Linked DNA regions of Homo sapiens: all the other regions are linked to region 3. The links come from fine-mapping of genetic effects on gene expression. A gene starts in region 3. Each other region holds a variant in brackets. All regions are shown on one strand. Distances are from middle to middle. Region 1 has its middle 35 kb from the start of A4GALT. Region 2 has its middle 30 kb from the start of CYB5R3. Region 3 holds the start of A4GALT (alpha 1,4-galactosyltransferase (P1PK blood group)).

Evidence for each region. PIP is the estimated chance that this variant, and not a neighbour inherited with it, causes the effect. A credible set is the group of variants that fine-mapping cannot tell apart.
Region 1: its variant is the best candidate, but not a certain one, in a credible set for the expression of A4GALT in monocytes after R848 (Quach 2016, PIP 0.73).
Region 2: its variant is the best candidate, but not a certain one, in a credible set for the expression of A4GALT in fibroblasts (GTEx, PIP 0.56).

Annotation. Positions count from the first base shown.
Region 1 is chr22:42,753,325-42,758,848 of GRCh38, forward strand. No RefSeq gene overlaps it. Among named protein-coding and RNA genes, the nearest start is that of A4GALT, 35 kb to the left of the region's middle. The variant A/ATATTTATT (reference allele first, on the strand shown) is at 2,517.
Region 2 is chr22:42,676,223-42,681,746 of GRCh38, forward strand. No RefSeq gene overlaps it. Among named protein-coding and RNA genes, the nearest start is that of CYB5R3, 30 kb to the left of the region's middle. The variant T/A (reference allele first, on the strand shown) is at 2,328.
Region 3 is chr22:42,718,237-42,723,760 of GRCh38, forward strand. It overlaps A4GALT (alpha 1,4-galactosyltransferase (P1PK blood group)), which reads right to left and starts at 2,634. Exons shown (of 3, transcript NM_017436.7): 1 at 2,561-2,634. RefSeq lists silencers at 2,074-2,203, 2,284-2,513, 2,544-2,733.

The sequences.
Region 1 (5,524 bases), 35 kb after region 3:
CCAGCAGCTAGGATTACAGGCACATGGCACCGTGCCCAGCTAATTTTTTGTATTTTTAGTAGAGACAAGGTTTCACCATGTTGACCAGACTGGTCTCGAAATCCTGACCTCAAGTGATCCACCCACCTTGGCCACCCAAAGCGCTGGGATTGCAGGCATGAGCCACCGCGCCTGGCCTTTCTTTACATTTTTTTTGAGACAGGGTCTCCCTCTGTTGCCCTGGCTAGAGTGCAGTGTTGCAATCATGGCTCACTGCAGCCTCAACCTCCCAGGCTCAGGTGATCTTCCTGCCTCAGCCTTCCAAGTAGCTGGGACTACAGGCACATGCCACCATGCCTGGCTAATTTTTTTGATTTTTTGTGGAGATGAGGTCTTACTATGTTACTCAGGCTGGTCTTGAACTCCCGGGCTCAAGCGATCTGCCCACCTTGGCCTCCCAAAGTGCTGGGATTACAGGCGTGAGCCACCGTGCCTGGCCTAAAAATAAATATATAAATAGAATGACTAATTCTGAACGGGACACAGAATCTGCCAGTGCCTTGACTTTTGGACTTTCCGGCCTCTAGGACTTTGAGAATGAAGTGTCTGTTGTTTAGAAGCCTCCTGGTCCTGGGGTATTTGTCACACCTGCCCAGATGGGCTAAGACGGGACCCTTCTGGGTGTTCGGGTAAAAGCTGGCCTCAGAAGCTGGTGATGTTTCCTCAGGAGGCTGCCCATGGTGTGGTCCTGGCGACGCACCAGCAGCACGTCACCCTCTTGACCCGGGCGTGTGCCTGGCTAGCTGAGTTTTAAGCCTCTCTCTGGTGACATTTGGCTTTGGAGAAGGTTCTTTCTCTGGCAAAGCATTTAGATGTAGCTAAAAATACATTATTGGCCAGGTGAGGTGGCTCACGCCTGTAATCCCAGCACTCTGGGAGGCCGAGGCGGGCGTATCACGCGGTCAGGAGATCGAGAGCATCCTGGCCAACATGGTGAAACCTTGTCTCTACTAAAATTACAAAAAAATTAGCTGAGTGTGGTGGTGTGTGCCTGTAATCCCAGCTACTTGGGAGGCTGAGGCGGGAGAATCGCTTGAACTGGGGAGTCGGAGGTTGCAGTGAGCCAAGATCGTGCCACTGCACCGCAACCTGATGACAGAGCAAGACTCTGTCTCAAAACAAACAACAAGAACAACAAAAAACTAAAAAAAACGAAAAATGCAAAAATTAGCCAGGCGTGGGCACCTGTAATCCCAGCTACTCGGGAGGCTGAGGCAGGAGAATCACTTGAACCTAGGAGCCAAGATCTCACCATTGGAGATCTCACTCCAGCCTGGGTGACAAGAGCAAAACTCTGTCTCAAAAAAAAAAAAATCATTGACTTGATCCTCAGCCTGGTCAAATCGAGAAGCAGCACTCATGCTGGAGGGGCCACATAGCCTGGGCTCCTGATTTGCAGGGCCATGGATAAACACACACACGCGCACACACACACGCACGCACAGCCCTTCCCTGAGCTTGGGTGCTCAGTGATAAGCAGAACAAAGTCATCAAACATTCCTCCCTCACTCCTGCTCTGCATAGGGGCTGAGAGCCAAGACATTGGTAGCTTTGTCAAAATGTCAAAATATTGCTAGTCATTGGGCTGGGCACTGTGGCTCATAGCTGTAATCCCAGCACTTTGGACTGATGACTTTCTTTCTTTTTTTTTTTTTTTCTTTTTTTGCGATAGAGTCTTGTGCTGTTGCCCAGGCTGGAGTGCAGTGGTGCGATCTTAACCTCCGCCTCCCGGGTTCAAGCGATCCCTCTGCCTCAGCCTTGCAAGTAGATAGGAATACAGGCGCCTGCCCCACCACCATGGCCAGCTAATTTTTTTTTGTATTTTTAGTAGAGGCGGGGTTTCACTATGTTAACCAGGCTGGTCTCGAACTCCTGACCTCAGGTGATCCACTCGCCTCAACCTCCCAAAGTGCTGTGATTACAGGCGTGAGCCACTGCACGTGGCAAATCCCAGCACTTTGGGAAGCTGAAGCAGGAGGATTGCTTGAGCCCAGGAGTTCGAGACCGGCCTGGGCAACATAGCAAGACCTGTCTCAAAAAAAAAAATTTGCTGCCGGGCACGGTGGCTCACGCCTGTGATCTCAGCACTTTGGGAGGCCGAGGCGGGGTGGATCACCTGAGGTCGGGAGTTCGAGACCAGCCTGACCAACACGGAGAAACCCCGTCTCTACTATAAAACACAAAAATTAGCTGGGCGTGGTGGTGCATGCCTGTAATCCCAGCTACTCGGGAGGCTGAGGCAAGAGAATTACTTGAACCTGGGAGGCGGAGGTTGTGGTGAGCCAAGGTCACACCATTGCACTCCAGCCTGGGCAACAAGAGCAAAACTCCTCTCAAAAAAAAAAAAAATTTGCTAATAGAACATCATACTTTCTGAACATAATATCTGAGATGAACTCTGGGGCACTGTATGAGTCAGCTTAGGCTGACGTAACAAAATACCACAGACTGGGTAGATTAAACAACAGTTTACTTTA[A/ATATTTATT]TATTTATTTATTTATTTATCTTTTAAAGAGACAGAGTCTTACTGTTTTGCCAGGCAGGAGGGCGGTGGGGATATTCATAAATGCAATCACAGAGCCCTACAGCCTCAAACTCCTGGGCTCAAGCGATCCTCCTGCCTCAGTCTCCTGAGTAGCTGGGACTACAGGTGTGCACCACTGTGATAATAGAAATTTATTTTCTCACAACTCTAGAGGCCAGAAGTCTAAGATCAGGGTGTCAGTGGGGTTGGTGTCTTTTGAGGCCTCTGTCCTTGACTTGGAGATGGCCACCTTCTCATTCCCGAGTCTTTGTGCTGCCTTCCCTCTGTGTGTGTTTATGTCCTCATCCCTTCTTCTTCTTTTCTTGGGGGGACAGGTTCTCGCTCTGTCACCCAGGCTGGAGTGCAGTGGTGCAATCTTGACTCACTGCAGCGTTGACCTTCCAGGCTCAAGCCCCTCCCGCCTTAGCTCCCCTAGTAGCAGGGACCACAGGCACATGCCACAGTGCCCAGTTAATTTTTTTTTCCTTTTTTGAGATGGAGTCTCACTCTGGTGCCCAGGCTGGAGTGCAGTGGTGCAATCTTAGCTCACTGCAACCTCTGCCTCCCCGGTTCAAGCAATTCTCGTGCCTCAGCCTCCCAACTAGCTGGGACTACAGGCACCTGCCACCACGCCCGGCTAATTTTTGTATTTTTAGTAGAGACAGGGTTTCACCATGTTGGCTAAGCTGGTCTCGAACTCTTGACCTCAGGTGATCTACCCGCCTTGGCCTCCCAAAGTGCTGGTATTACAGGTGTGAGCCACAGCACCCAGCCCTAATTTTCATATTTTTTTGTAGAGATGAGGTCTTGCCATGTTGCCCAGGCTGGTCTCGAACTCCAGGGCTCAAGTGATATGCCTGCCTTGGCCTCCCAAAGTGCTGGGACTACAGGAGTAAGCCACCACGCCCAGCCTAATCTCTTCTCATAAGGATAGTATGGCCTTTTTTAAAAAACTTAAATACTCACCCATATGACCTTATTTGAACTTAAATACCCCTTTACCCTCTCTCCAAATACGGTCCCATTCTGAGGTACTGGGAGTTAGGGTTTCAGCCAGTGGATCTGGAGGGACATAATTCAGTCACAACAAGCAGGTTTTCCTGCCTTCTCAGCACAGTGTGACCTGTTTCTCTTTTCTTGCCAGAGGGAAGGGGACATTGAATGGTGTCTCTATAATTTGGACATCTCTGCCTTTAGTGTAAAAATTAATCCGTTTTCTGCTGCAAATAATTATTTTTTGCTTGTTCTGGAAAAAAAAAACCCCTATGAATTTAGAGAAGACAAAGCGCCCACTTCGAAAAAGAGCTCCTGGCCGGGCACAGCGTCTCACGCCTGTAATCCCAGCATTTTGGGAGGCCAACGCAGGCTGATTATGAGGTCAGGAGTTCGAGACCAGCCTAACCAACATGGTGAAACCCCGTCTCTACTAAAAATACAAAAATTACCCGGGCGTGGTGGCACATGCCTGTAATCCCAGCTACTCAGGAGGCTGAGGCAGGAGAATCACTTAAACCCAGGAGGCAGAGGTTGCAGTGAGCCGAGATCGCACCATTGTACTCCAGCCTGGGCGACAGAGCGAGACTCTGTCTCAAAAGGAAAAAAAAAAAAAGAGCTCCTGGCCTCTTCTGCACTCACAGCAGCATCACAGCCACTGCCAGGAGCTGGGGTTAGGTGGGAGCCAGTCAGTCCCTGCTGTCCCGCCTGTCCAGTCAGGCTCCTGGCTGTCCTGCCTGCTTACTCTTTCCAGTTGCACCTGCGGATTAGCTGGCAGGGGACCCTCTCTGCATTTGCATGGCTCCCCTGCCCCTTGTTTATGTTTACAAGATCGTTCCACGTGGTGGGATCACATGACTCCTGCATGCCTCCGTGAATCACTTTGAGCCATGTATTCTAGCTCTGAGTATTGGGAATAAAACCTAATATCGTAATAACAAGGGAAATGCAAATTTAACACATGGAGACTTTAACCGGCAAATCAGATGCAAACACCGCATCTGAGGTGAGCTGGCTGGCGCAGTCCTGGGGCTCACGCTCAGCCCCTGAGGATGTAAGGATTGTTAAGAACATGGGGCTAAGCCGGGCTCACACCTGTAATTCCAACACTTTGGGAGGTGGGAGGATCACTTGAGGCCAGGAGATTGAGACCAGCCTGGGCAACATAATGAGACCCTGTCTCTACAAAAAAAATCTAAAAACCCGGGTGTGATGATGCTTGTCTATAGTCACAGCTACTCTGAAGGCTGAGTTGGGAGGATTACTTGAGCCCAGGAGTTCGAGGCTGCAGTGAGCCATTATCGTACCACTGCTCTCTAGCCTGGGTGACAGAGTGAGATATGTCTCTAAAAACAAAAACAAAAAATAAAAGAACATAGAGAGATTTCTATGAATCATCAGGACCACTCTGACATTGCACATCTGGGAAATTTAGGTGACAAATGGGTTTGTGGCTCCTTCTCCATCACTGCAGACTCCTCGGAGGAGCCCTTGGTAGCAGCCAGGGACTACCCAGATCCAGCCTGGAGAAACGAGCTCTGGGGATGAGAGAAAAGATCCAGCGTGGTTTCTGTCTTCAAGGCCTTAAGATCTGGCAAGGACAGGCCAGGTGCAGTGGCTCACGCCTGTAATCCCAGCACTTTGGGAGGCCAAGGCGGGAGGATCACCTGAGGTCAGGAGTTTGAGACCAGCCTGGTCAACATGGCGAAACCATCTCTACTAAAAAGAGAAAAAATTAGCCGGGCGTGGTGGTGGGCACCTGTAATCCCAGCTACTTGGGAGGCTGAGGCAGGAGAATCACTTGAACCCGGGAGGTGGAGGTTGCAGCGAGCCAAGATCCCGTCACTACACTCCAGCCTGGGCGACAAGAGCGAAAGTCCATCTCAAAAATAAAATAAAAGATCTTGCAAGAATACGTGAGCACCTAGAAAAGGTAGGATCCAAGGCCAGGCAGTGGTGCAGGAGGTGAGTCCGGG
Region 2 (5,524 bases), 42 kb before region 3:
CCTCGACCTCAGTTCTGACCTTCTGTAATTGAACTAGGAGATGGACTGCACTTAACGGAAAATAAAAAAGTAAGAAGCTCTGGGAATTTTCCTTTCAGTCTCTTGGGAAGTTGGGAGAGTTGATGACCATTTTGCAATGCCAAAAATCCAGTTTGTGAAATCCTGTTTTTTTTTCCCCTCTGTCAAAACAGAACAGAGTCATTTGGGGATTTTTATTGCCTCTCATTTTTTTTTAAGCCTTGTTTTCCCAGCGTGGCTGGGATGTTGAGTTTCCTGTTGAAGAAATATTTGGGTTGATTTGGCTCTGAGGCCTGTTAGGCAGGTGGGGGACTTCCCTGGGACAGGGAACAGGATGAGGGGGCTCAGAGGCTGGAGTTTACAAAAGTAGAGCTGAAGTTGGGAGGGGTTTCTGGGGCAGGAGTGGGTGGGGCTCAAGCCCAAACCCTGGAGAGGCTCGAGGCAGGGGCAGAAATGGAGGAGGGGGCCAGGCACAGTGGCTCACGCCTGTAATCCCAGCACTTTGGGAGGCTGAGGTGGGCGAATCACCTGACGTCAGGAGTTCAAGACCAGCCTGACCAACATGGAGAAACCCTGTCTACTAAAAATACAAAATTAGCCGGGGTGGTGGCACATGCCTGTAATCCCAGCTACTCGGGAGGCTGAGGCAGGAGAATCACTTGAACGTGGGAAGTGGAGGTTGGGGTGAGCTGAGATCGTGCCACTGCACTCCAGCCTGGGCAACAAGAGTGAAACTCCGTCTCGAAAAAAAAAAGAAAAGGTTTTGTCATGAGGAAGTTTCACACTGCTATTAAAATATTGAATTGCTAAAGGCAAAGAAGGAAGGTGCTGACATTCTCCTGAAATCTGAGGAACTTTAGGGTTGGCATTTGTGTTTTTTAAGCACAATTAGTGTTGACACATATTTGTTGGATGGGTTTCAAGTTCAGACACAGATTTTGTCACAGTGGTCCCTAGTTGATATGGTTTGGCCCTGCGTCCCCACCCAGATCTCACCTTGAATTGTGATAATCCCCACATGTCAAGGGTGGGACTAGGTGGCAGTAATTGTATTATGGGACCAGTTTTCCCCTATGCTGTTTTCATGATAATGAGTGAGTCTCATGAGCTCTGATTGTTTTATAAGCGTTTGACATTTGCCCTGCTGGCACTCATTCTCTCTCCTGCCACCCTGTGAAGAGGTGCCTTCTGTTAAGATTCTAAGTTTCCTGAGGCCTCCCTAGCTATGTGAAACTGTGAGTCAATTAAACCTCTTTATAAACTAACCAGTCTTGGCCAGGTGCAGTGGCTTATGCCTGTAAGCCCACCACTTTGGGAGGCCAGGGTGGGTGGATCACTTGAGTCAGGAGTTCGAGACCAGCCTGGTCAACATGGCGAAACCTCATCTCTACTAAAATACAAAAATTGGCCAGGTGTGGTGGCAGGTGCTTGTAACTCCAGGTACTCATGAGGCTGAGGTAGGAGAATTGTTTAAACCTGGAGGTAGAGGTTGCAGTGAGCCAAGATCGCACCACTGCATTCCAGCCTGGGTGACAGAGCGAGACTCCCTCTCAAAAACAAACAAACAAACAAACAAAAAAACAAACAAAACAAAACCCAGTGTCTTGGGTATTTCTTCATAGCAGAATGAGAACAGACCAGTAAATTGGTAGCAGGAGTTGGGTGCTGCTATAAGCATAACTGAAAATGCGGAAGCAACTTTGGAACTGGGTAACAGGCAGAGGTTGGAACGGTTTGGAGGGCTCAGAAGAAGACAGGAAAATGTGGAAAAGTTTCGAACTTCCTAGAGACTTGGAGGGCTCAAAAGACAGGAAGATGTGGGAATGTTTGGAACTTCCTAGAGACTTGTTGAATGCCTTTGCCCAAAATGCTGATTGTGGTATGAACAATGAAGTCCAGGCTGAAGTGATCTCAGGTGGAGATGAAGAACTTGTTGGGAACTCGGGTAAAGGTCATTCTTGCTATGCTTTAGCAAAGGGATTGGCAGCATTTTGCCCCTGCCCTAGAGATCTGTGGAACTTTGAACTTGAGAAAGATGATTTGGGGTATCTGGCAGAAGAAGCTTCTAAGCGGCAAAGTGTTCAAGAGGAAGCAGAGCATAAAAGTTCAGGAAATTTGCAGCCTGACAATGTGATAGAAAAGAAAAAGCCATTTTCTGGGGAGAAATTCAAGCTGCCTACAGAAATTTGCCTAATGAAGAGCTGAATGTTAACCACCAAGACAATGGGGAAAATGTCTCCAGGGCATGTGAGAGACCTTCACGGCTGCCCCTCTCATCACAGGACCTGAGGCCTAGGAGAGAAAAATGG[T/A]TTCCTGGGCTGGGCCCAGGGTCCCACTGCTCTATGCCACCTTGGGACATAGTGCCCTGTGTCCCAGCTGTTTCAGCTCCTGCCATGGCTAAAAGGAGCCAAGGTCAGGTCAGGCCATTGCTTCAGAGGGTGCAAGCCCCAAGCCTTGGTGGCGTACACGAAGTGTTGGGCCTGCAGGTACACAGAAGTCAAGAATTGAGGTTGGAGAACCTCTGCCTAGATTTCAGAGGATGTATAGAAATGCCTGGATGTCCAGGCAGAAGTTTGTTGCAGGGGCAGAGCCCTCATGGAGAACCTCTGCCAGGGCAGTGCAGAAGGGAAATGTAGGATTGGAGCCACCACACGGAGTCCCCACTGGGGCACTGTATAGAGCAGCTGTGAGAAGAGGGCCACCATCCTCCAGACCCCAAAACAGTAGATACACCAACAGCTTGCACTGTGTGCCTGAAAAAGTCACAAACACTCAACACTAACCTGTGAAAGCAGCCAGGAAGAGGAGCTATATGCCACAAAGACACAGGGGTAGAGCGGCCCAAGGCCATGGGAGCCCACCTCTTGCATCAGCATGACCTGGATGCAAGACATGGAGTCAAAGATCATTTTGGAACTTAAAGGTTCAGTGACTTCCCTATTGAATTTCAGACTTCCATGGGGCCTATAGCCCCTTTATTTTGGCCAGCTTCTCCCATTTGAATGGGTGAATTTACCCAATGCCTGTACCTGCATTGTGTCAGGAAGGAAATAACTAACCTGCTTTTGATTTTACAGGCTCATAGGCAGAAGGGACTTGCCTTGTCTCAGATGAGGCTTTGGACTTGGAGTTTTGGGTTAGTATTGGAGTATGTTTAGATTCTGGGGGACTGTTGGAAGGGCATGATTGTGTCTTGAAATGTGAGGAGATGAGATCTGGGAGGAGCTAGAGGCAGAATGATATGGTTTGGCTCTGTATCCCCACTCAAATCTCACCTTGAATTGTAATAATCCCCACATGTCAAGGGCGGGACCACGTGGAAGTAACTGGATCATGGAGGGCGGTTTCTCCCATGCTGTTCTCATGATAATGAGTGTGTCTTATGAGATCTGATGGTTTTATGTGTCTGGCATTTCCCCTGCTAGTGCTCATTCTCTCTCCTGCCGCCTTGTGAAGGGGTGCCTTCTGCCATGGTTGTAAGTTTCCTGAGGCCTCTCCAGCCATGCAGAACTGTGAGTCAATTAAACCTCTTTTCTTTATAAATTACCCAGTCTCGTGGATGGCTGTACCACCCTGAATACGCACAATCTCATCTGATAAATTACCCAGTCTAGGGTATTTCTTCATAGCAGTGTGAAAATGGAGTAATACACTGACCTTACCTCACACTTCCCATCTCATTATTATTATTTTAATTTAGTCATGGTAAAACAAGCCTGGTGCAGTGGTTCGCTTCTGTAATTTCTACACTTTGAGAGGCTGATGCCAGAGGATTGGTTGAGGCCAGGAGTTAGAGACCAGCCTCAGCAACATAGCAAGACCCTCTCTCTATTAAAAAATAATAAGACCGGGTGCAGCGGCTCATGCCTGAATTTCAGCACTCTGGGAGGCATTTTGAGCCACTGCACTCCAGCCTGGGTAACAGAGCGAGACCCTGGCTCAAAACACAAAAAAATTGTGGTAAAATATACACAAGATAAAAATCGATCCTTCTGGCCATGTGTAAGTGTACAGTTCAGGAGTGTTCAGTGCATTCACATTGTTGTGGGGAGTCATGCTCTTTATTTTGAATATTACCCTGCAGGGTTGTGGAGGTGTGCATTTCTTGTTTCTCACTGAGCCTTCACTGTGATCAATCCCTGTTGTTTCCTCCCAGACTCAAATAGAATGAACGCCCCCTGATATTTTAGCCTGGAGGGGATCACATTTGGGGACTTTAGACCAAGCTGGGGTCAAAGGTGATGTTCCACCACCCTTTGCCTTCAGCCCCCAGCCTGGCTCAGCAGCACAGGAGAGGACTGCTGGGTGGGCTTCCTCCATGACCTAGTGGAGGATCTTCCAGGGCAGAGTAGGCCCTTATTGTCTCTGAGATACCCCTCCACCCAGAAACAGCTGGTCCAGCAGCATGGTGGTGGCATGACCTCCTGAAGGCTCAGGTACAACCCCAGTTGGGAGGAAACACGCTGAAAAGATGAGGCTCTGTCTTGTAGGATACAGTGTGTGGTGACTCAGAGACCCGCACATTCCATGACAGAACACACAGCCAGGAATCATGACTGCACTGAGTCATCACCCACAGAATTGTCATTTCCGGTTCCTGAAACTTGGAGCTCTGCTGGGGTAAAGGTCTTGGTCCCCAAGAGAGGAGTGTTTCTACCAGCAGACAACAATGGTTCCACTTAGTCAGAAGCTGAGATTGCCACCTGGCCATGTTAGGCTCCTTATCCACTGAACCAAAAACGCATGCACACACACGCAAAAGAAAATAATGCACGCACACTCACAAACGTATACGTATTTTACTCATACATACATACATTTCTTCCTTTCCTCCTCCTCACTCTTCTCCCCTCCTGTCTAACTTCCTATTGTCTTCTCCTCTCTTCCTCCTTCCCCGGATTTATTTCAGCATTGATGTTGGTGATTAAGTTTAAAATGTATTATATAAATATTTTATATATATTTAACTACTTAATTTTTTTTTTGAGACATGGTTTTGCCATGTTGCCCGGGCTGGTCTCGAACTCCTGAGCTCAAGGGATCCGCCTGCCTTGGCCTCCCAAAGTGCTAGGATTATAGGCATGAGCCACCATGCCTGGCCTATACATCTATACATTTTCTTTGCTTTTCTTTCTTTCTTTTTCTCTTTCTTTCTCTTTCTTTCTTTCTTTCTTTTCCTTCCTTCCTTCCTTCCTCCCTCCCTCCCTCCTTTTTTTTTTTTTTTTTTTCTGGAGTCTCGCTCTGTCACCCAGGCTGGAGTGCAATGACGTGATCTCTGCTCACTGCAAGCTCTGCCTCCCGGGTTCACGCCATTCTCCTGCCTCAAACTCCCAAGTAGCTGGGACTACAGGCACCTGCCACCACTCCCAGCTAATTTTTTTGTATTTTTAGTAGAGACGGGGTTTCACCGTGTTAGCCAGGATGGTCTCGATCTCCTGACCTCGTGATACAACTGCCTCGGCATCCCAAGTGCTGGGATTACAGGTGTGAGCCACCGTGCCCGGCT
Region 3 (5,524 bases):
TACAGAAAAACGTGTTATTTTATTATTTATTTATTTATTTTTGGAGACGGAGTCTCGCTCTGTTGCTCAGGCTGGAGTGCAGTGGCGCCATCTCGGCTCACTGCACTCTCTGCCTCCCAGGTTCAAATGATTCTCCTGCCTCAGCCTCCTGAGTAGCTGGGATTGCAGGCACGTGCCACCACGCCCAGTTAATTTATTGTATTTTTAGTGGAGATGGGGGGTTTCACCAAGTTGGCCAGGCTGGTCTCGAACTCCTGACTTCAAGTGATCCACCCGCCTCAGCCTCCCAAAGTGCTGGGATTACAGGCGTGAGCCACCTCGCCCGGCTGGAAAAACGTGTTTTTAAAGGTCTGGCAAAAAAAAAGGCAAATGTTAACAATAGTTGTCTTCAAGTATGCAAACAGGAATTGTTTTTCCTACTTCTTTCGGTTAATTCATTCAAACAATATTCAGGAAGCACCTGCTAGGTGCCAGGCCTGGCACTAGGCTCTGGGATCTGGACAAGGGTCCTTCCCTCCAGGAGCTTCCAATCTGGAGGGAAGCATGCGGTGAGCCAATGAAAATGCAGGGTGATCAACAGGAGTTTGTGAGCACGCCTAGCAGGTCCCCAAAGAAGGAGGCAGCTGGGGAGAGTGAGAGGAGGTGCACTTCAGAACTCAGATGGCTGGCTTGGTGGTGGAGGCCGTCCACCTGCCACCACCTTCCGGGACCTGCATCCCCAGCTGAACTGCATCCTTGGAGGTCTGAACCCAGTGGCCCCGTGGCCAGGTGGGCTTGGGAGTTGCTAGCTGGGGCTGATGTGGTAGTTCACAACCTCCTGGTGTTCCACACAAACCACCTGGAGATTCTGCCAATCCTGCTCCACACTGGGGTCCCAGGGCCCATCACACGAACTGGAAATTAATGGACCCATTAACCTAGCAGCTAGAGGGCTTCAATTAGTACAAGGAAACAAAACATATTTTGTAGATGGCTGTCCATTTTGGAGTTTATCCTCTAATACTGAGCTGTCCTAGCAGACAAGAAACGACAGGCACCCAAGGCATTAGAAAAATGTTTGAGAGAAAAACTAATGACAACATTGGGTGTAGTGGTGTGTGCCTGCAGTCTCAGCCACTAGGGAAGCTGGGGTGGGAGGATCGCTTGAGCCTAGCAGTTTGAGACTACAGTGAGCTGCCACAGCATTCCAGCCTGGGTGACAGAGGGAGACCCTAAAAAACAAACAAACAGAAAACTAATGACAGAGAGGATTCCATCTCTCCTCTTCCTTTCTTTTCCTTTCTATTTTGTTTTCCTTTGTATTCCTTTGATTTGGGGACCCTCTTTTGGGGGGTTGCAGCTATGGAAACACAGTGTAGCAGGGTTTCGGGTCCTGGAGAAGGTTTGAGGCTGGAAGAGGGCTGTGGGAAATCTTGAGGGAGGCCTGGCTCCATCCGCACTCTGCTATGGGACCCTGGGCAGGGTGGCTCCCTCATTCTTTGGGAGGAGGTGACAAAGGGGAAGTCTTTGGGCAGCTGGTGGCGGGAACGGGAAGGCCAGACCTGGCCTGAGACCCACCAGGTGCTCGGGGTTATTTGCTGAGTGCAGGGTACGTGACCCCAAGGGGCCTTCGCGGAACAATCACTCGACGTTGGCGGAGGGGAGGAAGCCGCAGAGAGGGTGTCGTGAGGGAAAGGTGGGTGCAGGGGAAATGGCGCTTTAACCCACTCAGGGCCAGAGGCTCAGCCGAGACTATCCAGGTGGGAACTTGTCCCTCCGGATGACAGGTGATGAAACTGAGGGAAGGGGACTCGCCCTGGCAGTGAAACGGGATGGGCGCTGGGACCAGGTGCCCCGGCAGATCCTCTCCCAAGCCCAGTTCCGCTCCCGCTCAGTCCTCAACCTTCCCCAGCTGGAGAGGAGGGAGGGGCGCCTGCGGATCCGAGGCGAGCGCGGAGGCCGGGCGACTCCAACCGGCTCGCCCCGTGCCCAGCTCGTACCCAGGCCGTTTCCCGCACGGGGAGGGCCCTTCCCGCTTCTGGGCAGGTCCAAATCCTCACCCTCCCTAAGGCCGGCGCCGACGCTGCCAGCCCGGCAGAGCCCCCTCCTGCCGGCCGCTCTCCATCCCCGTCCCCGGTCGCATCCGCTCCGGGGCGAGCACCGCCCGACGCCCAGGCTTCCCCCGGACGGAGGAGCGCGACTCACCCACGGTGGCCGGGCAGAGCCTGCCTCGAACCCGGCTTCTCCCCGACGCCCTCTCTCCAGCCCCGGGACCCAACCGGGTGGGGCTGCCCTCGAGGGCTCCGGAGCCAGGCGCGTCCTGCCCGCGAGGGCCGGGGCTCCGGGTCCCGCCGCCGCGCTCCACTTCGGGGCGCAGTTGGGGTGGAGGCGGTGGCCGGGACCGCCGCGCGGGGTTCGTGCGCGCACAAATGTCGCCTCCAGAACAGGTGGCCCGGGCTAGGGCGGCGGCCCAGCCCCTCCGCCCCTGCCCCTGCCTTCCCGAGGCGCCTCCTCCCCACTGCGAGCCGCAGGATCCCCCTGGAGCCCCCGTCCCCCGCAACATCGGCGCGGCCCCTCGTACCTCTAGCTCCAGCGGCGGCGGGCGGCGGACAGCGGGGCCCCGGCGGGCGGGCGGCGCGGCGGCCGGAGGGCAGTGCCTGGGGCCCGGCGGGAGGCAGCACCGCCCCTCCGGCCCGGGGCGGGGTCAGGCCGCCCCGCCCCGCCCGTCCCGACCTACCCTGCGGGTCCCGGTCCCCAGAGCCCTTGCGGGGTCCCCGCGACCCCGCCCGCGCGCCCTCGCTGCTCCCCGGGGCGGGTGCGGACAGTCCCCAGTCCGCCGGCCAACAGGTAGGGAGCGCTCCCCGGCCTCCGCGCCGCCAGTATTACGGGTTACCATCCCGTTTTCCCCATTGAACTGATGAGAAAACTGAGGTTCAGAGGGTTGAGTACCTCGATATTCTGCAGTGGAGAAGGGACGCTGTCACCCCTGGGACCCGGGTCGGCCTGATCCCACCGCCTCCTGCCGGGACCGTGCTAAGGGCATTGCCTGCATCACCCCAGTGTTTGCGGAATTCCAGTTATTTGCTGTATCCTTAACGCCGCCCCGTCCTTTCTCTACTCCTCCTCCTCACTCTCACCTCGCCCCATCTTCACACATATTGCTATTGGTAATTTGTTCAATGTGAGAAATTGGAATGTATCACACACAATTCGTGTATCATAAAACTGTATTTTATTCTCTTTGGAACATGCCATGTTTCCAGCATGTCACAGTCCTGGTGCTTTTAGTTCTTACTCCTCTGGGACAACAAAGACTGCAAAAAATGAAACCATTGGGTGACTTCTTGAGTGCTGACGCCCATCCTCTCACTCAGCTGATGACCCAGTGCCCAAGCCACTGAGAAAATGGAACCTCTATCCTAGCCCTGAGAAAGAGCCTGGCACTCAATGGGTGCCCAATAAATACACTTCGAATGAAGGAATCAGTAGAAAATTCCCACCAGCTCCCCCACCCACCCGCTGAGGTAGCACCCAGTCCCTTCCCTCTTGGGACCGGGCTGAACCCGTCCAGCTCCTGGCCACGACCACCCCCTCCAGAAGATCCCGACCCTTCACGCCAACACTGATCCCGAAACCCTGCCCTCTCTCCATTCTCCCTGGGTCATTCCCATCACAGGCTGTTACTTCTCCCATCTTAAAACGGAAACAAGAGGCCAGGCAAGCACTCACGCCTGTAATCCCAGCACTTTGGGAGGCCAAAGCAAGCAGGTCACCTGAGATCAGAAGTTCAAGACCAGCCTGGCCAACATGGTGAAACTCCATCTCTACAAAATACAAAAATTAGCTGGACATGCTCACTTGAACCCAGGAGGTGGAGGTTGCAGTGAGCCTAGATCATGCCACTGCACTCCAGCCTGGGTGACAAGAGCCAGACTCTGTCTCAAAAAAAAAAAAAAAAAAAAAAAAAAAAAGAATGAATGCGGACCCTTTCTCCACTGGTAATACTCATTTTTTTTTTTTTTTTTTTTTTTTTTTGAGAAGAGACTCACTCTGTTACCTAGGCTGGAGTGCAGTGACACCATCTCGGCTCACTGAAACCTCTGTCTCCTGGTTTCAAGTGATTCTCCTGCCTCAGCCTCCTGAGTAGCTGGGACTACAGGCATGCACAACCATGGCTAATTTTTGTATTTTTAGTAGAGACAGGGTTTCACCATGTTGGCCAGGCTGGTCTTGAACTCCTGACCTCAAGTGATTCACCCGCCTCAGCCTCCCACAGTGTGGTGATTACAGATGTGAGCCACGGCACCTGGCCCACTTGTAATACTTTTAATGCTTTTGCTTTATGTTGGCTTTTCCATGATCACAAATGTATTTTTCAGAGAAACTTTGTATTGCTACCCTAAATGGAACACCAGTATCTCAGAGACTAGAAGGCAACAGTAAAAATAAAACTAAAACAATGTTATAAAGCCCGGGTAGGTCCTGTTGCCCCTCCAAGAGCTGAGTTCCTCCTGCCCTCTCCTTGTTAAAAGGAAGATTCATCCCAGCACTTTGGGAGACCGAGGCGGGCAGATCACAAGGGCAGGAGATCGAGACCATCCTGGCTAACAAGGTGAAACCCCGTCTCTACTAAAAATACAAAAAAATCAGCCAGGCGTGGTGGCGGGCACCTGTAGTCCCAGCTACTCAGGAGGCTGAGGCAGGAGAATGGCGTGAACCCGGGAGGCGGAGCTTGCAGTGAGCCGAGATCGCGCCACTGCACTCCAGCCTGGGCGACAGAGTGAGACTCCGTCTCAAAAAAAGAAAAAAAAGGAAGATTCGAAAGGTGTAGAGAGATATTCAAGGCAGGCCAGCACCCAGCAAAGACTTGCCCCTGGACTTAAGCAAAGGGATTAAAGAGAATTGAGAAGGGAATGGCTTTCTTAGAATAGCCATCGCTGGAGCTGTGCCCAGACCCACAAGCTCTTCCTGGCTATGTCTGGGGAAACGGTCTCCTTGCAGCTTGTTAATCTCACAACCCTCTGAGGTCACCCTGTTATCCCCATTTTACAGATGAAAAAAACGGAGGCTGGGCCAGGCGCAATGGCTCACGCCTGTAATCCCAGCACTTTGGCAGGCCAAGGCGGGCGGATCATGAGGTCAGGAGATCGAGACCATCCTGGCCAACATGGTGAAACCCCGTCTCTACTAAAAATACAAAAATTAGCTGGGCGTGGCGGCGTGCCCCTGTAGTCCCAGCTCCTCGGGAGGCTGAGGCAGGAGAATCACTCGAACCTGGGAGGCAGAGGTTGCAGTGAGCTGAGATCATGCCACTGCACTCCAGTATGGCGACAGAGCGAGACTTCATCTCAAAAACAAACAAACAAAAAAAAACGGAGGCTGTTGGCTGGGTGCAGTGGTTTAAGCCTGTAATCCCAGCACTTGGGTGGCCGAGGCATGCGGATCACCTAAGCTCGGGTGTTCAAGACCAGCCTGGCCAACATGGCAAAATCCCATCTCTACTAAAAATACAAAAATTAGCCAGATGTGGTGGTGCCTGCCTGTC